Linked DNA regions of Homo sapiens: regions 2, 3, 4 and 5 are each linked to region 1. The links come from fine-mapping of genetic effects on plasma protein levels. Region 1 holds a variant in brackets. A gene starts in each other region. All regions are shown on their reverse strands.

Region 1 (6,528 bases):
GGCTGAGGCAGGAAAATCGCTTGAATCTGGGAGGCAGACGTTGCAGTGAGCTGAGATCACACCACTGCACTCCAGCCTGGGCGAAAGAGAGAGACTCCATCTCAAAACAAAAACAAAAACAAAACCAAAACAAAAACAAAAAACACCCAACAAACTGAATTCCTTAGAGGCATCACCTGGCCCCTGCCGACTTCTTGACTTCTTCAGCCTCACACTGTCTCCGCATGGCTATAAAGTATAGCAGTACCAGATTGTAGTGGGCTGGCCACTAAGGTGTTCCTTATCGCTAATTAAATCGGCCTAAAATGGGAGAAAACAGAATGCTTTTCAGATGCTTGGAATAGTAGCTTGGTGTTGTGTCACAGTGATTCCATCGCTTTATGTTCAGAAAGCCTTGGTCCACGCCCTTTAAGAAACCTGGGATCCTCTTCCCAGGCAGCAGCACAGCACAGGAAAGGGGCTGCAAGCTCGAAAACCTATAGGACCAGGCATCCTCTATGAGTGGAGGTGGGTAGTGGGGGAGTGGTGAAGTGGAGAACATATCCCACAGCTAAAGGGAGGGGACAGTCCCTTCCCAACTTCAGCAAGGTATTGCCTGATGTGAATGTTGCCATCATTTCTGAATTTTCAAGGGAATGCAAAAACCTGGATTTTTCATATGAATCTTCCAATTGTTAGATGTTGGCAACTAATTCAAAATTTAAAATACACGATGTGAGCCGATTATTTTTTTGAAAACAAGTGTGAATCAAACAAAACACATCTGTGGGCCATATCCAACCCCTGGGTCACATGTCTGTGAACTATTGAGAGTACAAAGTGTGGAGGCTTTGGAGTCAGACAGACATGGGCTGAATATCAGCTCTGTTACCCTTTAGCTGTGTGTCTTTGGGCAAGCCACATAACCTAATTCCTCATCTATAAAGCAGGGATCACAATACTTACCTCACTGAATTATAATGAGGATAAGAGATCATATATGTAAAGTGGCTGGCACACAGCAGTTCTCTAACTAAAAACTAACTATTACTGATCAGCACTATTGACAGACCTACAAAAAGAATGTATGTACATGGTCAGCATAGGAAAGTATGGTACAGGAACACCACCAAGGAAGTGCCACAACACTTCAGTCCCTAGAGGGCAGTTCTCAGCGGTGGCTTTCCTTGTGCCTGCTCTCCCTACTGCAAATCATCCTCCGTCCCTTGGCTCTGATTTGCGGCTCACCTAGCACCTTCCCGATCCCTGCTTCCATCTTCTATTTCCCTGGCACTGGGAATAGGCAGCCCTAGATAAGTGATGTGGCCATTACAGCCTACGAATAGAAACCCCGTGTTAGAAAAGAGCCTTCTGATTTGCACCCCCGTCTTGCTTGAGTTTAGTTCTCTGGTGCACTAAAAAAAAGTCAGGTGCTCCAGGGCTTCACAGCTGGGCTTCTGAGCCTGGGACTGGAGGGAGGGCCTGACCAGAAGATATCCTTCCTGAGACCAAATGGAATCCCTAGACATTACCCTCTATGTCACCCCCAAACTGTGTCAGCCAGGAGGCGCTCCTGCAGGGTCTCCCAGAGATCAAGAGACCTGGGCCATTTTTCTTATTTGAGAATCCAGAGAAACTAAAAATAAAGACTTGCCAAGACAGGCTTTCATAGCATATTTTAAATATTTATGTTTAATAAATTAACACGTTGTAACACACAATATAATGCTACTTAGCTGTATTAGTCACAGCATAATTACAGAATTAATATATACATATATATTTATACATACACACATATATTTTCTTGCCCCATGGGTCCCCATGAGTAAATATATTCATAGAGAACTATAGAAATTGGGACACCAGTTAAAACTGTGTGACTTTTTTTTTTTGAGACAGAGTCTCTCTCTGTTGCCCAGATTGGAGTGCAGTGGCATGATCTCGGCTCACTGCAATGTCTGCCTCCTGGGTTCAAGCAATTCTCCTGCCTCAGCCTCCCAAATAGCTGGGTCTACAGGCACGTGCCACCAAGCCTGGTTAATTTTTGTATTTTTAGTACAGACAATGTTTCACCATATTGGCCAGGCTGGTCTCAAACTCCTGGCCTCAAGTGATCTGCCTGCCTCCGCCTCCCAAATTGCTGGAATTACAGGTGTGAACCACCACCTCCGGCCAAAACTGTGTAAAGTATGCTCTTCTTTCTTTGAAAGCATTGGTGGGGAGTTAATACAGGCAGGACTTAAGGGGTTATAATCCTTGACATAAGGGAAGAAGGCAGAAATGAAATAATATAATTCACCCAAAAGATAAGAGAGGAGAAGTAAAGAAACAAAACAGGTAGGAAAAGAAGAAAAGATTTGGCAAGGCTGGGTGTTGTGGCTCATGCCTATAATCCTAGCACTTTGAGAGGCTGAGGTGGGATGATTCCTTGAGGCCAGGAGGTCAAGACCACCCTGGGAAACATAGTGAGACACTATCTCAAAAAAAAGATTTTTAAATTAAAGGAAAGATTTAGCAAGATGGTAGACTTAACCACAACTACATCAGTAATTACATTAAATGTAACTGGACTAAACACTCCAACTAAAAGACCAATTTAGGGAGTGAGTCTCTGGGACTGAATGTCTAAAATTGAAACGCTTTGTGAACATGAGGCCTTGGCTCATTTTCCTTCAGGGTGTCCTATGATGACTTCAGTACCCCCAACAAAATAGGTGTCCTTGCTGTCTCTCAGAACTTGCCTTTCCCACTGTACAGAAAGCCCTTTATCATGTCTTCTCTCTGTTGTCCTGGAGACTCCTTTTTACCATCTCATGCTTCAAAATTCAGCTCCTCTGTGAATCCTTTGACTTTCTCTTGATGACACACACACACCTTCTCTCTGAAATTATTCATCCTACGGCATGCTTTTGTTATTGTTATTTGAGATTTGTTGTGCTGCTTCCCACTAGCCTGAGGACTCATAGAAGGAAGGAATTATGTAAATTCTTGTCTGTAACCTCAGCACCTAGCAGTGGGCCTGGCAGGCGGTAGATGCTAAATGAATAGATGGATAGATGCAAAGGCTCTAGCAAAAGGAAAGTGTTTAAAATGAAACCAAGGGCAGGAGGCCAAAGACAGAAAGTGTTTTGTGAAATC[T/C]CCCCCATGCGGTAATGACATCTTTATGCACTTAATGCACCTCTAGCCCTGTACTTCTCTGAATTCTGGGTAGCATCCCTCTGTAAGGCCCAACTTTTCCTCTCACTTGGGACAGCCTCACTTCTTTCTGGTGAAATCCCTCCTACCTTCAAGCCCAGTTCAACAGCAATCATCATCTCTGGCACCTGGACACAGCCACATAAAGTTCACAGCCATACATATTTTCTCATTTGACCCAAACATCCACCCCATAGGTAGATATTATTACTTCATTTTTCACAGACAAGGAAATAGAGGCCCAGAAATTATTTCATTGATGAGAAAATTGAAGCCAGAAAGGGACTTGGTCAAAGTCTCACAGCGATGGGGGCATAGTTGCAGCTTCTACTCAGTGCTGGGAACACCCTTAGTTGTGACAAGGATGCTGCTTTGACTTTTAGGGTTGCTATGTGAGAAGCAACATCTCAAAAAGGAAAATAGCTTTTCTCTCATGCTGTCTCCTTCCTTCCTCTCAGTGTCTAAAATCATGAAGAGCTCTTTGGAAGCTGTAAGTGGCCTCTTGCAAAAAGGAGGCATAGGTTTTGGGTGGAGGCTGTGATAAGACTGCTGTTTGGATGAAGAATCCCTGTTGCAATCTTCTCTGTCACAGTGGTTGTATAGACAGCCTCTCGTAGGCATTATCCAACTGGAAGCAAAGAGAAACCCTTATGACTTCCAGGCACTTCCCCAAAGCCTCTCAAAATTTACTGAGTACATATCCTGGGGTTGGACAACACAGTTTTTAGTGCCAGTACTTACCATTCCCAAGCCCATGGCAGACATCAAGAATGAATCGCAGGACTCCTTCCCACAAAGCTGGAAAAATAGCCCATCTCAATGTAGCAATCCAGACAGATTCAATCAATTGACTGGAGTTGATGCATGTCATCAAAGTTATTTAACATTTTATCTTATTGCATGTCAAGCCCAGGGATAGGGAATACAGAGGTGAAAAAAATTTTCTCTGCCCTCAAATCTGGAGGCAGGACATAGGTAGGGGTTAAGAGGAGACAAACCTGGGAACACATATTTATAACCAGGTTAAGTTTAAAACCAGGGTTAAATGTATGAACCCAGTATTGTGGAAGTACATATTAGCCAATGACTAATTCCGCCTAGAAGTGAGACACAGAGGTGGGTTTTGAAGGATGAAAAGGAGCTGAATAGGCCAAGCAAAGTAGGAAGGGTATTACTGGCAAAGAGACTAACATATACTAAGGCTTAGAATAACAGAAAGCACTAGAACAGGTAGGTGTAAGGAAAAGAAAACCTGTACCCAGAGTGAGAAAAACCATTTCCCTTCATCCCTCTATGCTGTAGTTACATCATCTGTAAAAATAATAATACCTGGCCGGGCGCGGTAGCTCACACCTGTAATCCCAGCACTTTGGGAGGCCGAGGTGGGCGGATCACTTGAGGTCAGCAGTTTGACACCAGCGTGACCAACATGGTGAAACCCTGTCTCTACTAAAAATACAAAATTAGCCAGGTGTCCCGGCACATGCCTGTAATCCCAGCTACTTGGGAAGCCAAGGCAGGAGAATCGCTTGAACCTGGGAGGCAGAGATTGCAGTGAGCCGAGATCACGCCATTGCACTCCAGACTGGGCAACAAGAGTGAAACTCCATCTCAAAGAAAAAAAAATTGTAATACCTATCTCATAAGGCTGTAGTCAGGATTCAGTAAGATAATGTATGTAATGCCCTCAGTATGGTGCTGCCTGCTTCAATAAAAGTCAGCTCCTAGTGATGTCTCCAGAACATCAAGGAGCATGAAGCTGATATTTGGCAATTGAGCCAGAATACATTTGAAGGAGAGGAGTATCATCAGATTTTTAAAATGTTTATGTTTTCCATGATTAAAACATATGTTTATATCTGTTTATATCAGAAGGGTTGAAAACATTTTAAATAGAAGAAAAGAGAATCTTACCTAACCCTACTACCACGCAGAGAGGACTTCTGTTAATATATTGGTGCCATGGTTTCCAGTCTTTACTCAGTGCAATTCTTTTCTATGCCTATGACCATACCACATAAACAAGCTCTCTGTTTTTTCTACATACAAATTATTATGTAAGCAGTTTTCCATATTATTATAATCTCTTTGAACATATCATTTTAATGACTCATATTCATGGAGTGGATAGACTATAATTTACTCAGCCATTTCGCTACTGTTGGACACATAGGTTGTTTATCTTTTTTTTTTTTTTTTTACTCTTGTCAATATAATGTTATGGGAGAATATCTTAGCACATAAGGCTTTTTTCTGTACTTGAGACTATTTCCTTTAGATAGAGACCTACATGTAGAATTAGAGGCTTCAAGGGTCTTGATTAAAGGCTACCAAATTTTTTCCTGAAAGGGTGTATTTACACTCCTTCAGCAGTATTTGTTTCACTGTAGCCTTACCAGCTTTGAGCATTCTCATTTTAAACAAAATCATTGCTAATGTGTTGGCTGCAAAGAACAAGATCAAAGGCACAGTGTTTTTCTCACTATTCAGAAGCTGGAGAAGAGCTCATTTGTGTGTCTCACATGCATGTTCTGTGTTACAACCTCTCAGTGCTTGGTTTTTATCTGTTTACTGAGGGAGGGATCTTCAGGTTATTATCACATATAGTTAAAATAGTAACCCTTTGTCATATTTTATTTTATTTTATTTTATTTTTTTGAGATGGAGTTTCGCTCTTGTTGCCCAAGCTGGAGTGCAATGGCATGATCTCGGCTCACCGTAACCTCCACCTCCCGGGTTCAAGCAATTCTCCTGCCTTAGCCTCCCGAGTAGCTGGGATTACAGGCATGTACCACCACGCCCGGCTAATTTTGTATTTTTAGTAGAGATGGGGTTTCTCCATGTTGAGGCTGGTCTTGAACTCCTGACCTCAGGTGATCCACCCGCCTCGGCCTCCCAAAGTACTGGGATTACAGGCATGAGTCACTGCGCCCGGCCATATTTTAAAAGAAAGATTTTTCTTTCTTTTAATGACAAACAAATGACTTTGTTTGTCATTTGCCTTTGAATTAAGGCTTTATGTTCTGATGGAAATAAGTCTACAGATCTTTTCCTTTGCAATAGCTTCTCCTTTCCTGTAGAAATTTGACAGGCAGGACTTTTTAGCTCTCTCTGGGTAAGTCACCTTTCCCTCTGGACCTCAGTTTCCCTGTCTTTTAAATGGTTGGATGGGTGGAGATGTGATTTCTCAGCTTCCTTCTAGGTGGAGATTCTTGGGCTCTGGACTCCACAGTGCAGCTCAACATTGGCAACCCTCTCCACATGCTCTGGGACTCCAGCTGCGGAATCTCCTCTCCTTGAGACTGAGAGTTCATTCAGCGATCGTCTTTTGAGCATCTACCACACGCCAGG
Region 2 (6,528 bases), not on the chromosome of region 1:
AAACATTCTGGATTTTGCCACTGAACAAAGGGGAAGGGGGAAGAAGGAGAACTGTCAGTATGAAGAGAGATTATTTCCTTGGGCTTTGTCCCCGGCATCTCACAGGGCCTCTGGATTTGAGAACTTGCCCTGTTTGTTACTCTCTGTGGTCCCATAGCTAGTTCACGTAGTGTTTAAGCTGGAACATACCATGTTGAGCTGGGTTTAAGTCAAAGGGAATTTTCCAGACTTCAGATAAGAAACTTCAGCCAAGATGCAAAGCAGAGAGGTTAAGATGCTGGGCTCTGAAGTTGAACAGGTTTGGGTTCAAATCCTGCCTTTACCATTTATTTTCTGTCTTTGGAAAATTAAGTTAGTTAATGATAATTTCTTCATCTATGAAATTGGGATAATATCTTTGCTACCATAGGGTTGTTGTGAGGGTTAAATAAAATGATATGTGTAAGTTTTTAGCACAGTGTCTGTACATAGTAGGCACTTAGCAAATAAAATAAAGTAAAATAAAACTAGCAAACCAAAACAAGCACAGGTAGGGGGTGTTGCTGACATAGACCCTGATCTCTCATATTCCTGAGCAGTGATTCTTTACCCCAGACCTTGTGATATTTGACAATATTTTTTAGTTAGCATTCTAAAAATTTCTACTTTTCATTTTAAAATAACTATTTTTGGTGTGTAAAGCCTGTTTGCCCAATTGGGCTAATTTTCTGGAAAGCAATCTTAATTTATAGCCCACTAAGTGTGGCAAATACTGCTTGTATCTTGTAGAAATAAATCAAGTAGAGGTCAGCAATACATTGTTGAGTAAGTGTATAAGAAGGAGTCAAAGTGCAAAACTGGGTTTTCATTGCTGAGTTGCTGATCCAGCACCTGGTCTCACTGCCCTCCAGCATACCCGTAAAATGTAACTGCTAAGTAGACTCACTAATGTCAACTTAAATAATAACCACAGTGAATCTCTCTTAAAAAAAAAGTTACCTATTTGAGAATAGGGCATTGCAATGGGAATACATGTGCCATAGTAAACTACGTGCATATTCAGGAGGTAAAGGAAAACAAAAGTTCTTACAGGAAAAACAATGAAAATTACATAATTTTATTGAAATGTGTATTCTTGGCTACAAAGATCAATAACAATGGTGATGCTAATATGAAGTTGGACAGGCAGCTGCTGGACTGATGTCCTCACAGAAGTGTTTGTTGTGTAAGGCTATTATGGCCTTTGTGTAAGGTTGTGGTTTTTGCAGTCTTTTGTGATAGTTGTGTTATCAGGTGTACAAGCATGAGAACTCTCTCTTCGCAGCCTTCCTTAGCTCTATATTTGTCAAGGATTTTTTTGAAGACAAGTGACTCCATTTTGATTCTGACAACTTGCACACTAACTTATAACATCTCCTCACCAACTTTATAAACTAACAAACTTACACAGTCAATTACAGGCTCAGTCCCAATCTCTGCCAACTCATCTCCCCCAGCCCCACCTGCACACTTCAACCCACCTCCACTGGCCCAGCACACACATACAGTTCTTTAACCTCTACTTCTATGGTGCCCCAGCTCCTCACAGCTCAGTCCTGCCCCAGGCACACATAAAGACCTATTAGGCTTTGGAGGCAGGCAGACCTAAGTTCAAATTCAGGTCTAACTTCCTAGCTATGTGACCTTAGGTAGTTTACTTAAGTTTACTTACTTACTCTCTGTGCCTTGGTTTCTTCATCTATAAATTGGGTTAATAATACCTACCAAATATTCATCTTCTAGATACAGCCTCTGGCTTGTTACTTCCCTAACTTACCCTCAGTTCCCAAACCTTTCTGGAAGTTCTAAGCCCCATCAGAAAAAGCTTCAAACACCACCACAGAAGAAGGTCTAATCGGCTCTCCCTCTTGTTCTCCAACTTCACCCTCTCATACTGGCCTTCTTCTAACTCTGATCAGGCAGAAGCAACCTCAGCCCCCTCTTGCTCCCAAAGGTTGAAGCCCCTACTCTGCTTTTCCCTGGCTGGTATGCCTACCCCACCTTCACCCCAGGACTGGAGCCAACCTGTCCCCATGTAGACAGATCTCTCCAAACACAAAGCCTGCATCCTGCCCTCCTGCAGTCTGGAACTCCCCAGTGCTCTGTGCCCTGAGGGGAAGTGCTGGAGGCTGTGCTGTTGCTACAGGGCTGCCCTCAATACACCAGTCTCTTCAACCAAGGCCCTTACCATGCCTTCCTATCCTGTTGTTCCCTTTCCTGTCTGTTGCATGCTGATCTATAAGTGAGGATGGTAAAGATGGCTTTCCCTTCCAGAGTCACTCAGGAAGCTACACAGTATATATTATCTGCAAAGTGCCACTCAAGAGCACTCTTTGGGACTTGGCTTCTGAGCTCAGAAAACTTCCTCCTCAGGAATGGTTCTTCATGCATTGAGGATAAGTGTGATGTTCATAAGGTGCCAAAACTCAATGAGAGAAGAATAAATGGCAGCATGGTGCAACAGAGAGAACACAGGCCTGGAGTCTGAGGGGCTCTAGTCCAGCACCGTCTCCGCTTCACAGAGTGGCTACTTCTCTGAGGATTTCTCAGTGTTCTCATTTATGAATTGGGCTTAGCCATACCACCTCAGAGGATTGCTAGGGAGATCAAATAAGATGAGATGGTAATGAAAATGGAATAAAATCAAATGAAATGAAATGGCAATACCATTATCATTAACCTCTTGGGGACTTACCCCTGGGATGGCCAGGCTATAGACTTCATGAGAGTTGAAACTGCTGCCATCGTATTCAACACTGTATTCCTAGGGCCTTAGCCCTCTGCCTGAAATGGAGCAAGCTTTCCATAAATATTTGCTGATTAGCCACCAGTTGAGTTTCCTGTCCTTGCAATGAGGAGTTACCACATGATCATGGTAAGCCTTTTTTCTCATCAGCTACAAAATGCTACCTACCCATAGCATGGGGTGGGGAAGGTATTAACTTTTTTTGTTTTAATTAAAAATGAGACCAACTTTAAAGAGATGAAACTGGCTTTCTTGTGTCTCATACACTAGGTGTGAAAGGCACTTACAAAACAAGAATTCAAAAAATGTTCTAAGTAATAACAGTTCTAAGTAACATCACCACAAAAACATGTGTGCCCTCTCAGAGTGGCTACTTTGTAAAAGTTAACCTCAATAGATATATTCTTGAACATTTATATTAAAAAAGGAAACAGTGGCCAGGCACGGTGGCTCACACCTATAATCCCAGCACTTTGGGAGGCAGAGGCAGGTGAATCATGAGGTCAGGAGTTCAAGATCAGCCTGTTCAACATGGTGAAACCCTGTCTCTACTAAAAATACAAAAATTAACTGGGCATGGTGGCAGGCACCTGTAATCCCAGCTACTCAGGAGTCTGAGGCAGGGAATTGCTTGAACCCAGGAGGCGGAGGTTGCAGTGAGCCAAGATCGCACCACTGCACTCCAGCCTGGGCGACAGAGCAGGACTCCATCTCAAAAAAAAAAAAAAAAAAAAAAGGAAAGAGTCCCATAACTTTGTAGGCTCATAGAGACAAAGAATGTTCACCAGGACCCCAGCCTGTACCAAGCACTGCTGAGCCCATCACAATGGAAAGAAGCTTCCCTGTCAAGAGGACTCAGCTACAGAAGGTACCAAATGTGGTAGGAGGGGCCTGTTAATTAGACCAAGGCAGTCACACATCAGCAGGTAAAACAGAGACAAGAGGAGGTGTGGCTGGGCTGGGCTGGATCTTGGATGAATCAAGCCTTCCCATAGGGCAGGATATCCTGTCTAAAACAAGAGCCTTGGTTAAAACCCCTATAAAAGGTTCTCATCACACTGACCTGGTACTCCTCACACCACTTAACAGCCACTTGTTTCATCCCACCTGGGCATTAGGTAAGTCCCCTCATAAGAAACCTCTTTCTCATTCTCAGTGTCTTGGTGATCTGAGCTCATAAAACTGGGGCAGTCAGGTATGGACTATGCATCCTTCAGAGCTAGCTGTGAGCACTGGGCAAACCAACGCTACCGTTGGGAAACATGCTCTCCTGAAGCAATCAGGCTTTCTCCTCCTCCCTGAGGCTGGCCTGGGAGCAGCTCCTCTCACTGGGAAACTGTGTGGGCAGCGGCTATGGGGCCACCCATGTGCCTTCCTGGATCAGCAAAGGTTTCTTTTTTCTAAGGCTCTGGAAGCTTCTTTGCAGTGCTGAGAGTCTATGGGATCAGAATCAGTTTACTTATGCCAACCTAGACAATAAGATCAAACTGTGTCATGGATGAAGGGGTTTACATGATTCCCCTCTCCTACACCAGGGTGATATTTAGGCAAAATATGTGTAGATTTTTCTAAGGAATCTAAAATGTAACTAAAAGGTCATCTTATTATTTTATTATCTAAAGGTCAGTGGTTAAAGTCTGCTACATGGTTTTAAAAAAAAAGAAAGATATTTTTCATCTATGTTGAGGAAAACATCCCCAGTTTTTTACCTTGATGAAAAGTTTGCCTGAAATTGTTGGTTACCAGGTCCTAGAAAGGGTTTCTCCTGAACAGCCCACCTTTTGCTATGACTTACTGAGTCCTCATGGCCACACTAATCTGCTTTTTCTAGAACTCAAGTCTCCTTCCTTCCTTTTTTCTCTTTCTTCTCCTACCTATATCTGCCTCGTCCCATCCTCTCTCTGGCTTTCCAGCTGCTACAGGCTCCATCTCCCCTTGCATTTGAGACTTGTCATCTTTGATACCATCTCCTCCTTTGGGTCTCTCCAAGGCTTCTGCTTAATGAATCTTCAAGTCTCTTTTCCTTTTGCTCATGCAACCAAACCCAGGCCTCACCTCAACCTACCTCTAGATTTCTGGCTAATGAAAAAGAAAAGCTTTCCCTTTGATTAGGAACCAACTCATAGGTCACCAGAAATCTGGGCCTGATGGAGCCACGTGCCTGTTGGGCAAGCTGACTTCTCTGATAAGTCTCAGGGCTGTGGACAGAGGCGACATGCAGAGAAACTTGGACCCTCAGAACTGGAAGGCCTCCCACCCAAAGAAGGTTCCCCCCTCCTGAGCATTCCCAGCAGGTGGTAGCCCAGTTTCTTCCCACTTTCCCAAAAAAAACAAGAAGGGAGGGCTGTGTCCCTGGAATTTCTGCTTGGCTCCCATCCAAGACAGGGGTTGACTCACAGATGTATTTACTTCCTTTTGGTGTTCCCGATGGGACCCTAACACCCTTGTGATAAATAAATAAATCCTGTCCACAGGGTACATTCTAGAAAGCCCATTGCATTTGGGTTAAGGAAAAATGGATCCTAGGATTTCTTGGCTCCTTAAAAATTGTGTGGCCTAACTTCTCTGAGCCTGTTTCCTCACCTATAAAAAAAAGTGGAAATAATAAGGATTAGAAGAGATGATGTACAGGAAAGTGATTATATAGGTGTACAAAAATTATATGTGTGTATATGTATATAATAGCATAATAATTATATTTAATAAGGAGCACTTAATATAAGCCAGGCATCTGCCAAGTGCTTTTTATGAATTATGTCTTTAAATCTTCACAATAATCCCACAGAGTACTAATATCACCTTCAATTACAATGAGTAGTAAACTGAGGCATGGAGAGGCAAAGCAACTTGTCCCAGCTCACACCATACTTAAGTGGTGGGGCCAGCATTTAATCCTGACTCAGGAACCTGCCTCCATCCTGTGTGCTCCTCCTTCCCATACATAAGATGCATTATGTAGGAAAGGACAAAGGAAAACTAAAAACAGAGCTGAACGTGCAAGGAAAGACCTAGCAGCAGACGTGCTATAAAGGAAATAGCTGAGGTTGATTATGGAGCCTCCAAGGGAACTTTTCATCTTTTCCAGGTTGACTTCAAAGATGCCTCAGTTACTGCAAAACATTAATGGGATCATCGAGGCCTTCAGGCGCTATGCAAGGACGGAGGGCAACTGCACAGCGCTCACCCGAGGGGAGCTGAAAAGACTCTTGGAGCAAGAGTTTGCCGATGTGATTGTGGTACGGTGTGCTGAGCCGGGTGGAGAGGGGACATAGCAGGAGAGTGAAACCTGGTTTGCCTGCAGAGGCCTTGCCTGGGGAATTTGAGGAGGCAGCAGCTAAACCCAGGCCTGCCGGGACAGATGGCAGCTGTGCAGGCAGAAAAAAAGGTGAAAGAACCAGAGATGGTCATGGGAGTTGGCAAGTCCTGGCTCTTTAGATTAAAACCTTGGTTTTAATTAATTCTAACTTAAAGACAAGGTAAAAGGGCTCTAAAAGGACAACTCAGACAGGAGCAGAGCCTTGGAATATTTCAAAATGAAAATAATTGCTGCTTTCTGCCGCCTCTTAAATTTGATACAGTAAATATTTCCCACGTCTATCTGAAATGTAATCATCCATTCATAGACATTCATTAGAAGCATAGCTCTGGGCTTGCACGAAGCAGTTACTCAAAAATATTAGCAGACTGATCACATCAGAAATGAAATTTTGAAGAGCAGGTTGTTAATAGCTAGGGGGAGACTTTGGAGCCTCACCCCACCCCAC
Region 3 (6,528 bases), not on the chromosome of region 1:
ACACAAGAATAAATGATGAGGGGAGAGCCTGGGTGCCACAGTCAGGCCTATCTGGCCCCGACTCGGCCACACACTGGGTGACCTTGACCAAGTCCCATCCCCTCCCTGAGCCCCAGTATGTGCATCTGAAAATCGAGGCCTCTATTCCACATTGCACTGGGTACCCCTGAGGCTCTGAGGCCTCCTGTGAGGGGCAAGACCCTCCCCCACAACCAAATGGTTTCAGAACCTAGCAATTCCCATGGACTCTTAGACCCCTGGGCCCCCTAGGAGGGCAGGGACCCCAGAGCCTCCATCCTCCCACCCCAGCAGCCAGAAGGGGAGGAGGGGGCAGCAGCTGTCTGACCACTGTTGGTCTTGCAACTTGTGTCCCCAGGTTAATTTTTAAAAAGCAGTCAAAAGTCCAAGTGGCCCTTGGCAGCATTTACTCTCTCTGTTTGCTCTGGTTAATAATCTCAGGAGCACAAACATTCCTGGAGGCAGGAGAAGAAATCAACATCCTGGACTTATCCTCTGGGCCTCTCCCCACCCCCAGGAGAGGCTGTGCAACTGAATGAACAGCCCTGTCCAAGAGAGGCTAGGACTGGGGCTTCTCCACCCCTGCGCGTCTCAGGCTTCCCATCTGGACCATGGGGTTGATAACTGTAGTCACGCAGGCCCAACATGAAGGTCAGCGAGCCATCTTGGTGCACTGTAAGCGGGCTTAGTAGGATGATTTTATTCCTATTAATGATTCATTGTTATTTATTTATTCTTATACCAGGCCTGCCTCCTCCAATGGCAGACACCCCTGAGCCACCACACAGGTAAGGCAGTGGACAGTTTACAGTTCACTTCCTCACACATTGTCTCTCTTGGCCTCTTGACAGACAGAACAAGAACTGTTTTCTTCCGTTCACAGATACGGAAAGTGGTCTTTAGCGAGGGAAAGCCACCTCCAATATCATGCAGAACAAGGAGAAGTTGGGGGCTACCACCTCCTCATTACCATCATTAACTAAAACATCAAAGATTGAGAAACTTTGTGAACACAAGGAACACGAAGATAACTGTCCCAGAAAGCTAAACCAAGACAGTAACTGTGCTTAAACTTACATCATGGCTTTGAGCTTCCTAGCAGCCAAAGCAAGAAGGGAATATAATCACTGGCCAAGGTTAGGGTGACGGAGCAAAGGAAACACATTTATGAATAGAAGCACACTTGTTCTGGATACCAGTGAAAGAGGGATGTACTGACTGAATCTTACAGAAGGGACATGATACACCATTTGTTTCTGCACTGACTACATGGGGGAATCCTTTGATTCTCACATAAGCAGGGGTCTTAATCTTGGGACTGCCTGCCCGAAGGGGTCATTCCCAGCTCTAACAGAGAGGTGGCTGAGAGTATGGAATGTTCCATGCCAAGAGCAGGGAGGAAGTAAGGACAGTAGATTTAACCACTGGAGAAGGGAAATTCATAGAGAGGCCTTTGGTATTGCTGGCAAGAGTGTGAGCTCACAGACAACGGACCTGGGTTTTAAAAAATTCTCATTTAAAATCTTAAATTTAGGCTGAGCGCAGTGGCTTACGCCTGTAATCCCAGCACTTTGGGAGGCTGAGGTGAGAGGATCACCTGAGGTCAGGAGTTAGAGACCAGTCTGGCCAATATGGTGAAACGCTGTCTCTACTAAAAATACAAAAATTAGCCAGGCATGGTGGTGGGCACCTGTAATCTCAGCTACTCGGGAGGCTGAGGCACAAGAATCACTTCAGCCCAGAATGTGGAGGTTGCAGTGAGCCGAGATCGCACCACTGCACTCCAGCCTGGGCGACAAGAGTGAAACTCCGTCTCAAAATAATAAATAAATAAATAAAACCTTAAGTTTAATAACTACTGTATTAGTTTCCTAGGGCTGCTAGGAAATGTGTCTTCTCTCAGCACTGGAGGTCAGACACCTGAGACCAAATTTTCAGCAGAGCCATGTTCCCTTTGAAGATTCTGGGGAAAAGTCCTTCCTTGCCTTTTGCTAGCTTTTGGTGGCTGCCATCAATCCTTGGTGATTTTTGACGTGTCACTGCATCCCTCCCATCTCTGCCTTCGGCGTCACGCCACATCTTCCCCGTGCTTCTCTCTGTGTCCCTGTGTCTGAGTCTCCCTCACCATTCTCTTATAAAGATACCGGTCATTGGATTTAAAACCCCTGTCATCCAGTTCAACCTCATCTAACTAATCACATCTGCAAATCAGGTTCATTCTGCGGTTCGGGGTGCACATGGATTCTGGAGGGGGCACTGTTCAACCCACCACAAACACTCAGCTCTTACTCTATGCTGGGTACTGTCCTAGCGCATTGCAGGTGCTCACTCAACAATGCTAGGAGCTAGGAACTATTATTATCCCCATTTACAGATGAGGAAACCAAGGCACTGAAAGGTAAAGTGACTTGCCCAAGGTCACACAGCAGTGAGTGCCACTGTAGGCTGCCTGGCTCCCACGTCCATGGTCTCTACCACGCCTTTCCCAGCTACTCCACTCCCGGCTGAGGGATTCTGGGCAAGTCACTTCACTTCTTGGAGACTCAACTCCTCTGCCTGTAAAGGGGACAAATAGCACCTACTTCGTAAGCTTGTTGTGGGGATTTACTGGACACCTGTGGCACGTGTAAAGTGCCTGGTACACAGCCAGCACATAGCAGGTGCTCAGTGAACGGAAGCTCGTAACAGTCATCATTGTTAATGTCTCTATTATTTGCAAAGGCTAGGGCAAGCCTGGGGGCTGGAGAAGGAACTCTGGAGACAGGATACCTGGGTTCTGGTCTTGGCTCTGCCCATAGACTTCCCTGAGGTCTCTGGCAAGTCACTTCCTCTCCTTGGGCCTCAGTTTTTTCCTGTGAGAAATGGGCCCAATCAGGCTTGACCTGCTGGCTCACAGAGCTGTGAGGTCCAGATGGCATGACTCAGCAGAAAGGCCAGGTCGCTCCCCATCCTCGCATGCCCTCTGTGGGGGACTTTTGGGGGGCGGAGCCCAATCCTGGTGCTCCAGGGCCCTATTGTGCTTGGCCAATGCCTCTTCTGAAGCAGCCATCCCGGCCTCTTGGTACTGCTGACCCCAGCCAGGCTACAGGGATCGATTGGAGCTGTCCTTGGGGCTGTAATTGGCCCCAGCTGAGCAGGGCAAACACTGAGGTCAACTACAAGCCACAGGCCCCTTCCCCAGCCTCAGTTCACAGCTGCCCTGTTGCAGGGAGGCGGTGGCCCTTCTGTTGCTAGACCGAGCCTGTGGGATATACCAAGGCAGAGGAGCCCATAGCCATGAGGAGCCTCGGGGCCCTGCTCTTGCTGCTGAGCGCCTGCCTGGCGGTGAGCGCTGGCCCTGTGCCAACGCCGCCCGACAACATCCAAGTGCAGGAAAACTTCAATATCTCTCGGGTAAGGCTGCCGCTCTCTGTGGTAGGGTGGATGTGGTGATGGGGAGTCCAGGCAGATGGGCCCTGCTGGGCAAGTGCGGCCTGTCTCGGGGTCTCAGGCTTCCACTCAGATCATCTGGGATTATGGGATCCTTTGAAGGTACAGCTCTATCCCCTGCCATTCCGTGGGTCTCTTGGCTGACATTCTATGAGTCAAACATCCTCACCTTCTGCACTGTCCTCGTGGGCTCCAAGGGGAACCCTTGTGTTAATGGGAACCTGCTCCAGAGAAGGCTTTGTCCTGCCTGCCACTGCCCTGCAGCCCCCGTGCAGACACCTAGCTTTGCCCAGACCTCCCAGCCCTTCCTTCTCTAATGACTCCCCTCTCTCTGTGGCATCTTTCCCTTAGCTCTTCCTGTGTCCCCTGCCCACATCCTGGCCTGACTGTGGACAGACACCTGGGGTGGCACAGCGTGGGCATGTGGCCAGCAGCTTTTGGGTTGGGCATGTGGGGCTTATGGGAAGAGGTGAAGCAGGACAGAGATTAGGGTTGGGAGACATTCAGAGGCTTGGGCACAAGGAGAGACCTGGACTGGGGCAGGACACTCTCCTGTGAGTGTGGAGTGCCAGAGCTGCCTTCCAGCCCCCACTCTGCCCTAAATCCCGGGGTGGCTTTGAGAATACCCTTGCCCACCTGGGGCTGTCTCCATGTCTGTATGAAGGGTCTCAGAACCTTCTAGCTGTGGTGTCATGTGGGTTTTGTTTACTTTTAGGGACAAGGAAAGGTCGTGGCAGAGGGGCAATGAGGAGCAGGTCCCTGTGGCAGTCTGGGACGCAAAGGGTGTGGGGCACATTGGCCTGTTCCGTAGGAGCCTGAGGGCTCCTTCAGCTGTCCCGTGCACTTTCAGGAGGAAGAGGAAGCAGGCCTATCCTGAATGACCCCATCATGTTCATTATACTTTTGAAATAATTCCTAACATGGGGCTGTGGGCTGCCTTGCAAGGTGGGGAGCACCCCATCATTGGAGGAGTAAAAGACAGGACTCCAGCTCTTGGGGAGCAGTGGTTGATGGAGCTATGGACAGATCCCACATCTTGAGAGAGTTAGCCCTTCTGCAGGGCAGGTTGGGACCCCAGCCGCACACCTGCTTCCTGGGTTCGCTGTGATGCCTGAAACGCCACTCTTAGGGATCTGGCCTCCCTTGAAGGTGTGTGGCCTCTGATTAGTTGTAAGACATTATCCCTTAAAAGGATAAGTCATTTTGAGGAGAAGGAGGAGGAAGAGGAGGAGGTGGAGGGTGGGGAGCAGATGTCAGCCAGGTCTGCTTTGAGGTCTGAGACTGATGCAGACCCCCAGAGCTCACCTGCCTCCTAGATCTATGGGAAGTGGTACAACCTGGCCATCGGTTCCACCTGCCCCTGGCTGAAGAAGATCATGGACAGGATGACAGTGAGCACGCTGGTGCTGGGAGAGGGCGCTACAGAGGCGGAGATCAGCATGACCAGCACTCGTTGGCGGTGAGCACTAGGGTGGGGCTGGAAAGCTGAGAGAGACCCAGAGACCCACAACCTTCCCAGCCCCGTCCATCCTGGGAAGTTGCAGATCTCTGCTTCCAGTCAGGACCTTCCCGCTGAACCCCAGATCCCTCTACGCTCCTCCACCAGGACGGCCCTTTTCAGGTGTCCTATCTATTCCTCGAGGGCAGTGTCCCAGCACTGTGCCTGTTCTGCAAACTGCTCCTCCCCCTTGGGCATTCCTTAGCCCAGTGTGGGTACTTCAGCCCCCCAGGGACCCAACCTGGGAACTGGGCTCCTCTCTCCCCTGTCACCCATCATCAAGTCCTGCCCATTCTCCTCCTAAATCCCCCCCAACCTGTTCACTTCTCCCCTCTCCACTGCCACCATCCTGGTCCAAGCCACCTCCCTTTCTTTCCTGGTTGTCTGCCACAACCTCTCTACTCTTTCCTCACCTCTGACCTCCACCCTTCCACCCCATCCCCTCTTCACCCAGTAACCAGAAAGACCTTTTGAAAACTCACATCTGCTCGAGACCCTTCCATGACTCCCCAATGCCCTGGGAGTAAGATTCAAACTCTTGATGTGGCTTTCCAGGACCCTCCCAGCACCCAGAACTCCTGCCACACACTCTGCTATGTACTCTGAGTCCTACTCACGTGAACCTGCTTTCAGTTCTGGAACTCTCACGCCTCCAGGTCCTTGCACCTGATGTCCCTTTTACTGGGAGCACCTCTCCTCATTTCCCTGGGCTAATTAGTTCCTGTGGATTCTTCAGAACTCAGGTTTCATGTCACCTCCTCCAGGAAGCCCTCCCAGACACCCAGGTTCAGGTTACATGCCCTTCTTTGTGCCCGAAGAGGACCTCACACTTACCCCCATGTGGTACTTCTCACACTGATTGCATCTGCCTCTCACCTGCCTGCCTGACCCACGCAATTGCAAGCTCCAGGAACCCCAGGGAATGGGGTCTGTCTTGCTCTCTCATGTATCCCTGCCATGTAGCACAGGGCTTGCCACATAGGTGCTGCCCAATAAATATCCATTGGATAAATAGTGCTCATTGTAACAATAATAGCTAATTCGTATATAGTGCTTCCTCCAAGTTCTTTACATATGTGTCAGTTGACCCTCACACTAACCATGTGAGGTAGAAACTATCATGATCCCCATTTTATAAATGAGAAAACTGGGGCAAGAGAGACACAGAACAATACATGGATGACTGTAGGAATTCATCACTCCAGCTCCTCCTGCCTCAGTATAATGTGTAGATTTGATTAAGGAAGGCGGCATTAGTGCTGGCTTTGCCAGGAGGATGGCATGGATTTGTCTCTTCTTCTTTGTCCCTCCATCATATGGAAAATGGGGGTCTCTCAGGGCTAGTGTGAGGATTAAACAAGACATTTGGAAATGTTCATTTCCGAATTAAAAAGCAAACAAAAACACACAAACAAAAAAACCCCAAAACCAAGGCATTTGGAAAGAGCCCTGCAGGAGGGTTGAGTGTCAGGACCATGATCTCTACCAGGAGTGACCTTCCTTTTGATTTGTTCATTTCTAGGAAAGGTGTCTGTGAGGAGACGTCTGGAGCTTATGAGAAAACAGATACTGATGGGAAGTTT
Region 4 (4,000 bases), not on the chromosome of region 1:
GTTGCTGCTTAAAGTGCTCCTGCTTGTAGGATCTCTCAGCCAACAGAGCAAGGAGGTCTATGTGTGTACTATGTGTATATAACATAATTACATTTCCCTTTTAACCAGCTGTATCTATATTAAGCTAAATATGAGTTCATACTGATGTCTTCAACTCTAATCTATTACCACATGAATCACTGTCACCACCTCACCTCGCTTATTTATTTGTAACTTCCACTCCAACGGTGAGACACCTGGCTCTCACCATCTGCCATACAGTAACTTAATTGTTCCATTCCAGTCCCCACATACAGCGGTGCCTGAACTGTTGACCCGTACCCCCATGCCTCATTCATTTTTATCCCTTTACCTTGCATTATTCTCTTCCATCGCACTCTACATTGTTTATATTCTGCATTTTATGCTTATTTATGTTTATTTTCTGTTTTCCTTCTCTATAACAGAGACTTTCACTGCTGAGTCCCAAGCATCTAAAATCTGCACAAAGTAGGTGTCCAGTGAATAAAGTGGAACAAATGAGCAGAAAATTGTAATGCTTATTATGTTAATTAAGCAGGTCTCAGGAGGGCCTTTCCTAGCCAGTCCTGTGTCACTCAGCTTTGAGATACTGAATCTATTTCAATCAAAGTATAATCATAGCATATAATTTACACTTTTCAACAATTCAACTCCTTTTCTCCCCAATTGCTACAATTATAACCACTTAACTAAAACAGTGAACTATTACAAACTCACATCCCCTATTTTTTCCTTTAAGGCCTGACTCTAACTACCACCACCTCCCCCCATCCCCATCCCTTGCCACCTTAAACCTCCTAGATAGACACTGCCAATCAGTTTAAATTTTCTAGACATTTTTATTCTGTCTGCTCTAGTTATCTACTGATTTTTCTTTCACACTTGTTAAAAACATGAATAACATAATCAATATCATAAATCCAAATCACAGAGTTAATGAGAAGTTATATAAACATTAGGCTGTTGATTTTCAGTTAATCTTCCAAAAGGACTGTGAAGGCCTATAAAACAATTTTTTGAAAAAGTACACAGATTTGCTCTCTCTTCCTTAGTGAAAGCCTGAGTTTTAAGAACAAAGACACTAACAGAAAACATATGGAAAAGATCAGTAACAAGATGGAATCTTGGCTAAAGTGTGGTCTGCCACGTTTTTCATACCAATGTCTCAAATAATAGACTAGATTTTTACAACTGCCAAAGCATCACTTGAAACACTGTATACTTTTCTTAATGCAAAGTTTAACAAAATAAATCTTGTGAGTTCTTTGTAAAAAGCTAATGGAAAACACTTTTTTGAGGAAACAAAATGAACTCCAGGATTCACTTTATCTTATTAGTTTGTAAAAGCTTAAAAGAATTCCCCCCCAAAATGAACTCCGAATCTACTGCCAAAAGACACAAGTCAACTCTCTGTTTAGAATATGAGAACAGTGTAAAAATTAAACATTAAAAACAGTTAACTGTTACTATTCAGGAGAGATAGCTCTATGAAATGAAGAAATTTTCTAAATCTACAAAATAAAGGCAATAGCTATTGAGTAACATAAGCTTTTCATCCCATTTTATTCAATACTACAGAATTATTTTGTGCAATAGTAAAAACAGGCAAATTGAAGATACACCTTTGGAGTGCAACCAACTGACTAATTTTATCTGAAAGGATATTAGAAGTCATTCTAGTGGGTACATCTGCCAAAAAGAGGAGAAATGAGATAGCTGATAAAAATGATGATAAAAATGAAGATGTAAGCCTTTGTATAGAAAAGTCGTATAGTTAATCTGTGTAAGCAATGACAATCAAGTGCATTTTAAAAATAAACAATGCGAAATGTTATGTTTCTAATCCTGATTTCTTGTTTTAACAAATAGAAGTACTGATATGAACCTAGGTGTTGAATAACCAAGGGACTCAAGAAATTTTGAGTTCCAGGCCAGGCGTGGTGGCTCATGCCTGTAATCCCAGCAATTTGGGAGGTGGAGGCGGGAGGATCACCTGAGGTCAGGAGTTCAAGACCAGCCTGGCCAACATGGTGAAACCCCATCTCTACTAAAAATACAAGAAATTAGCCAGGCATGGTGGCTCATGCCTGTAATCCCAGCTACTTGGGAGGCTGAGACAGGAGAATTGCTTGAACCCGGGAGGTGGAGGTTGTGGTGAGCCGAGGTTGCACCACTATACTCTGGCCTGGGCAGCAAAGCAAGACTCCATCTCAAAAAATTAAAAAAGAAATTTTGAGTTCCACCTTAAGTTGCTGAGACTCTGGAGTTCCCTGTCACAGTGGGCCTTAATTTGAAGAATTCTTTGGCATGAAAATGAAAATAAAAACAGTAATCAGTACATGCTGTTTCATTTAGTTTTGTTTGCCTTTCACATTAGAGGAAATTCTTGCCACACCTCAAACCAAAATTAAGGGGAAAAGAAAGAAGTAAGCCACATAAATCTGACCAAGAACACAAGCATCTTAATTTGAATCCACAAAGTTTCATGTAATGAAAAGAAATACATAATTTTAATTCAACCCGAGTGTTTTCCAAGAAGATTGTATTTGCTTAAATTGCTACAGTAATTCAAGAGACAGCCCTGTCTGGACACAGAGTTACTGTGGATTTTTAAGAGACTCAGTTAAAGAATTTAGGAATTTCTGATTCATTTAAAGGATTTACAAATTCATCAACCCCTGAAAACTAAAGCAAATTGAACAGGTATGATAATAAAATAATTTTCAATTTTTTAAGAATGTATTCCTACTGTTAAAATTTAAAAGTATATTGGATTTTTTAATATTAAAATAGACTGCATCTATTACAAAAGCACAATTTTTGGAAGCAAAATCTGGTAAAAAAGTTATGTTAAACTTTTGATTAGGCAAAATGTTCAAATAAAGTAGTATAATGAGTTTAACTTTCTCATTTAAGATTTACCCAATAAAAAATCTTTGTTTAGATTTTTTTTTACTTTGAATGAAAGGAAAGATTCTCAGGTTAAAGGAATCAATCTCTTTCTCTTCCTTAGGTCTCTTTTTTTCTATGAATTATAAGTAACAAAGAACCAGCTAATGCCTTTGAGGCATACAGCTGAGCAATGCTAGTGATTCCGGTTGGGGGGTTGATGGGCATTTGTACAAATTTCACTCAAGATTTTCTCCAAATTTCTCTACTGACTAAATCCCTGATATAGAATGTTTTTCTTTTCATTTACTTCTTTCTCAAAGGGAAAATACAGATGCTCTATCTAGTCTATTGAAGGATCTAGTTACTTTGGGTTTTAGTTAATTACGATTTAAATGTATTATGGCTAAAAATAATTGAGGTAATTGTATTTTTAATAGCAAAAAAATTTTATAAAATTAAAATTTAGAACTTTTTTGGAAAAATCTAAATTATATGCTAATATTTGCTTTCTTATATGCTAGTTTCTATGTCATACAAATAAAAACAATTATGTCTTTAACATAATAAAATGTTGAGGATTTTACTTTAAACTTTTCCTGAACAAGTAAATTATACCTCATTAGTAATTTCAATTGAAACTTTTCTTGATGAACACGAGTGCTTTTCTCCAAGTAAGAGAAATATTATGACACAGATGGTTTTATTGCTATAATATGAAAAATTCACATTGAAAACTGGTAATATATATATATTACTTTGCTCCAAACATTCTTTTTCACATTTGTTCTTTTCCTGCTACACGATGTACTAGGAAAGTGAGGAATACAGTATATTGTGATGAAGAAATATTCAATAGAAAAAGGAACAGTCAAGCTCTCATGAATATGTTCATTTGAAGAAATTATCATAGTGAAATAAATGCCTAGGAATAATCAACATTAGTAGAGAGAAGCATTTGCTAGCAAGCCTTAACCTATAACTTATTAACTTATTCATTCAACACACCTTTGAGCACTTATAACACTGCATTGTATTAGATTCTGTTAAAAGATATTAGGAAATGAGATGATCAACAATGAATTATACA
Region 5 (4,000 bases), not on the chromosome of region 1:
GCAATCCCCTTACCTGGCTATCCATCTTTGGAAGGACAGTAGACCCTAGGATGATGGTGGCAGAGCCGAGAATCAGGAGGGGGTTTGGGACTCTGGGATCAACCAGTGAATAGGGCTGGATGGCTCACCCAAGCATGGGACATTGAGGACAGGGCTGGACGTGGGAGCTTAGCAGTGAGTCTGGAGCTTGGATGTCCCGAAACCCCAGCTTCCCGTCACCCCCCATCATACCTCCCACCCCCTCCGGGAAGGGAAATTACATTTCCCCATTTTAGCAAGGGGTGGCGAGAGGGAAGAATGAGTGAACACAAAGCTGAAAGTACAAGCAGGACGGAAAGTGAAACCGGGCACAGCCCCCAGTATAAGACCCCCCCTACCCAGGAGATGGCTGACCAAAGAGGCTGGGCCCCGCCATGGGCCAGACGGCAGGCGACCTTGGCTGGCGTGAGTTTGAAGCCAGGGGTGGGGGGCTTGGTTGAGTTTGGGCAGAGAATGGACGAGCTTGGCTGGTGCAGATGGGGGGTCGAGAGCTGAGAGCAGCAACTTGGCCAAGACTGAGGATTCGGCTGGCTGCTGCATGGGAAGGGAGGCTGGCATGACTGGGTGGGGGCCTGGGGCAGTGGGGTGGTGGTCTGACCCAGGGCTGGGCAGAGGATGAGAAGGAGGCCTTGGCTAGTGGGAATGGGGAGGGTTGGACCAGCAATTTGACAAGGACCAGGTCTAGGCAGATAAATGAAGAGTTTGGAGTGAATAAGCAGAAGCCAAACAGCTTGGCTAAGACTGAGAATGGGGCCGGCTGGAGGAAGAGCAGAACGAGGTGCTGGCACAAGTGGAGCACTGGGACCAAGATGTCAGCAGCCTCACTGGGTCAAAGGTCTTTAGTTTGATGTTGGAAAGAGGTCCAATCTGCGGCTGGTGGCTGCAGAACTCAGGGGCTAGAACCAGAGCAGTAGGCAGTGGAGAAGGTAACATGCCACGTAGGGCAGGTAGGGACCAAAGGCTGGAGGATGGAGACAGAGCCTTCAAAGGCCAGAGCCAATGACCCAGGATCAGCTGCAGAGGGTAAGGAGGGGGTCTGGGGTCTCCAGAGGTCAGGTTGGAGATGGCACAGCTCACTTACGGTTGGGCTTGATCCACCAGGGCCTGGGGGCACCCACCCTGTCCCCAACATTGAGCTAGGAAGAACCCCACTCTGCCTTAAGTCTCCAGGATGTCAGAGGGTCCGAGTGGCCCCAAAACCAGGGAGTCTGAATGCCAGAGATCTTACGTTAGGCATCGCCCACCACATCTGCAAGCCCACGAGGGAGGTAGATGTCCCTAGAAGCTCCCCTTCACCTTTATCAGGGGACATTTCGAAGAGCAGAGCCCAGGGGTTAGAGATTGAGAGAGGACAGGGAAGAGGCAGGGAGAGAAGGGAGAGCAGGATGGACTTCGGGCCAGTTTTGGTTTGTGTTTCGAGGAGAATTGTGTAACTCTTGTGCTTGCTAGATTTCCTCTCCCTGAGGGGGAAATTGATGAATGCTGCCCTCTTCCTAGAGCGCCCATCCGCTGCCCCTCTTTCCAGGAAAACACAGGTCAGGAAGCACACTCGGAATTCAGCCATTCTGGGCTGGGCGCAGTGGCTGATGTCTGTAATCCCAGCACTTTGGGAGGCCAAGGCAGGCGGATCACCTGAGGTCAGGAGTTGGAGACCAGCCTGGCCAACACGGCAAAACCCCTCTCTACTAAATATAATAAAAATTAGCCAGGCGTGGTGGCTACTCAGGAGGCTGAGGCAGGAGAATTGCTTTAACCTGGGAGGTGAAGGTTGCAGTGAGTCGAGATCGCGCCACTGCACTGCAGCCTGGGTGACAGAGTGAGAATCTGTCTTAAAAAAAAAAAAGCTCCCATACTGTGGATTCGCCCCAGGCAGGTTACCCTGCTAGGATCCACCTGCCGTGGTGGAAACTGGACAAACCTGTCCTTTTGACTCCCTGGAATAGAGCCTCTGGCATTGCCAGCCCATCCCTGGGGACCTCATGGCCAGTTCAAGCCATCAGAGCCGCTTGGCTGAGCCCAAAGAATCCTTGCCAGAACATGGTGTGCCCACTCCTGGGGCAGATGGCTGCCTCCCTCTGCATTCTCTGGGGAAAACCCATGGGCTCTGCATTTGGAAAAACCTGGAATCCAGTCCTGGCTTCCCACCTTCTGGCTATTTGACCTTGGGCAAGTCAACCTCACTGAGCCTCACCTGCAAATTGGGGAGAACAATAGCACTGAGGCTGCCACACGTGGTTGTGCAGGTTGCTCACTGAAAAAGGCATTTGGCCAAGGGAGTTTATGGGGGTCAAAATCCAGTCTCTGTCCCGGCACAGTGGCTCATGCCTGTGATCCCAGCAATTTGGGAGGCTGAGGCGGGAAGATCTCTTGAGGCCAGGAGTTCAAGACCAGCCTGGGCAACATAGTGAGACCCTGTCTCTACAAAAAAATAGAAACAGTTAGGCACAGTGGTGTGTCCCTGTGATCCCAGCTACTTGGGAGGCTGAGGCGAGAGGATCACTTGAGCCTAGGAGTTCAAGGCTACAGTGAGCTGTGATCACACCACTACACTCCAGGCTGGGTGATAGAACAGAACTCTGTTTCAAAAAAAAAAAAAAAGGATCAGGCTTCTGGTCTTTTTGCAAAAGTGGGCACACCATGCGGAGATGCCATATGGGGGCCGTGCTGGCTGCATCGTGGGGTTTTGTTTTGTTTTGTTTTGTTTTGTTTTTTTGAGACAGAGTCTGGCTCTGTCGCCCAGGCTGGAGCACAGTGGTGTTAGCTCACTGCAGCCTCTGCCTCCCAGGTTCAAGCGATTCTCCTGCCTCAACCTCCTGAGTAGCTGGGATTACAGGCATGCACCACCACGCCCAACTAATTTTTGTATTTTTAGTAGAGACAGGGTTTCGCCATGTTGGCCAGGCTGGTCTTGAACTCCTGGCCTCAGGTGATCCGCCCGCCTCGGTCTCCTAAATTGTTGGGATTACAGGTGTGAGTCACCGCACCCAGCCTCCATTGTGGTTTTGAGGAGGCAGAGGAATGATGCTGGTCAAAGTGCCTGCACCGTGCTCACAGCTAGCACAGGCTCAGAAAAGGCATGTTCCCTTCCTTCTCAAGCTCTCTCCCTGTCTTGCCACCCTCTTCCCATCTCTCCAGGGCTCAGCCTGTTGCTGCTTCCCTTGCTCCTGGTTCAAGCTGGTGTCTGGGGATTCCCAAGGCCCCCAGGGAGGCCCCAGCTGAGCCTGCAGGAGCTGCGGAGGGAGTTCACAGTCAGCCTGCATCTCGCCAGGAAGCTGCTCTCCGAGGTTCGGGGCCAGGCCCACCGCTTTGTAAGTCCCCCTAATGCAGCTGGCGCTGGAGATGGGCAGACCCCCAATCCCTTCTGGCCCCCACTAACAGACCTTGCCCCCCAGGCGGAATCTCACCTGCCAGGAGTGAACCTGTACCTCCTGCCCCTGGGAGAGCAGCTCCCTGATGTTTCCCTGACCTTCCAGGCCTGGCGCCGCCTCTCTGTGAGTGAGGGCTGGTGGAGTGGGGCGGGAAGCTTGTGATAGGCTGGGGCCAGGGTGCAAGATGAGGCTGGAGATTGAGCTGGAGATGCATTGGGGATAGAACCTGGATAAGGCTGAATATGTCATTGGACATAGAGATGAAAGACAGGCATGGTGACTTACACCTATAAACCCAGCACTTTGGGAGGCCCAGGTGGAAGGACTGCTTGAGGCCAGGAGTTCAAGACCAGTCTGGGCAACATAGTGAAACTTTGTCTCTACAAAAAAAAATTTAAGAGTTAGCCAGGCATGGTGGTGTACACCTTTGGTCCCAGCTACTCAGGAGGCTGACATGGGAGGATTGCTTGAGCTCAGGAGTTGGAGGCTGCAGTGAGTTATGATCCTGGACTCCAGGATGGAGAACAGAGGGAAACCCTGTCTCAGAAAAATAAATAAACTGCCAGGCGTGGTGGCTCATGCCTGTAATCCCA

Which allele goes with the higher level. Positions count from the first base shown, and alleles are read on the strand shown. Strength reflects both the effect of a copy and how common the allele is.
With allele T in place of C in region 1, the plasma level of the protein whose gene starts at base 3,833 in region 2 is higher (strong association).
In carriers of allele C in region 1, the plasma level of the protein whose gene starts at base 3,204 in region 3 tends to be higher than with T alone (strong association).
In carriers of allele C in region 1, the plasma level of the protein whose gene starts at base 2,455 in region 4 tends to be higher than with T alone (strong association).
For the plasma level of the protein whose gene starts at base 391 in region 5, allele C in region 1 goes with a higher level than allele T (strong association).

What was found. PIP is the posterior inclusion probability: the model's chance that the variant is causal. Protein levels are from antibody-based Olink assays in UK Biobank. Linkage for the fine-mapping came from a reference panel and not from the study's own genotypes, which makes the PIPs less certain.
Region 2: it holds the start of CRNN, and the variant in region 1 is fine-mapped to the plasma level of the CRNN protein (UK Biobank, PIP above 0.99).
Region 3: it holds the start of AMBP, and the variant in region 1 is fine-mapped to the plasma level of the AMBP protein (UK Biobank, PIP above 0.99).
Region 4: it holds the start of OMD, and the variant in region 1 is fine-mapped to the plasma level of the OMD protein (UK Biobank, PIP above 0.99).
Region 5: IL27 starts here. The variant in region 1 is fine-mapped to the plasma level of the IL27 protein (UK Biobank, PIP above 0.99).

Annotation. Positions count from the first base shown.
Region 1 is chr17:28,408,702-28,415,229 of GRCh38, reverse strand. It overlaps LOC124903964 (a long non-coding RNA gene), which reads right to left and starts at 4,528. Exons shown (of 2, transcript XR_007065688.1): 1 at 3,919-4,528; 2 at 1,649-3,805. RefSeq lists an enhancer at 6,023-6,528. The variant T/C (reference allele first, on the strand shown) is at 3,121.
Region 2 is chr1:152,411,568-152,418,095 of GRCh38, reverse strand. It overlaps CRNN (cornulin), which reads left to right and starts at 3,833. Exons shown (of 3, transcript NM_016190.3): 1 at 3,833-3,882; 2 at 5,850-6,000. The coding sequence starts at 5,863.
Region 3 is chr9:114,074,976-114,081,503 of GRCh38, reverse strand. It overlaps AMBP (alpha-1-microglobulin/bikunin precursor), which reads left to right and starts at 3,204. Exons shown (of 10, transcript NM_001633.4): 1 at 3,204-3,411; 2 at 4,764-4,906; 3 at 6,468-6,528. The coding sequence starts at 3,295. LOC107987120 (a long non-coding RNA gene) reads left to right here and starts at 435. Exons shown (of 3, transcript XR_001746905.1): 1 at 435-669; 2 at 764-806; 3 at 902-1,564.
Region 4 is chr9:92,422,926-92,426,925 of GRCh38, reverse strand. OMD (osteomodulin) reads left to right here and starts at 2,455. Exons shown (of 3, transcript NM_005014.3): 1 at 2,455-2,724. The region is part of intron 5 of CENPP (centromere protein P); the gene reads right to left.
Region 5 is chr16:28,503,225-28,507,224 of GRCh38, reverse strand. It overlaps IL27 (interleukin 27), which reads left to right and starts at 391. Exons shown (of 5, transcript NM_145659.3): 1 at 391-444; 2 at 3,175-3,347; 3 at 3,432-3,530. The coding sequence starts at 414.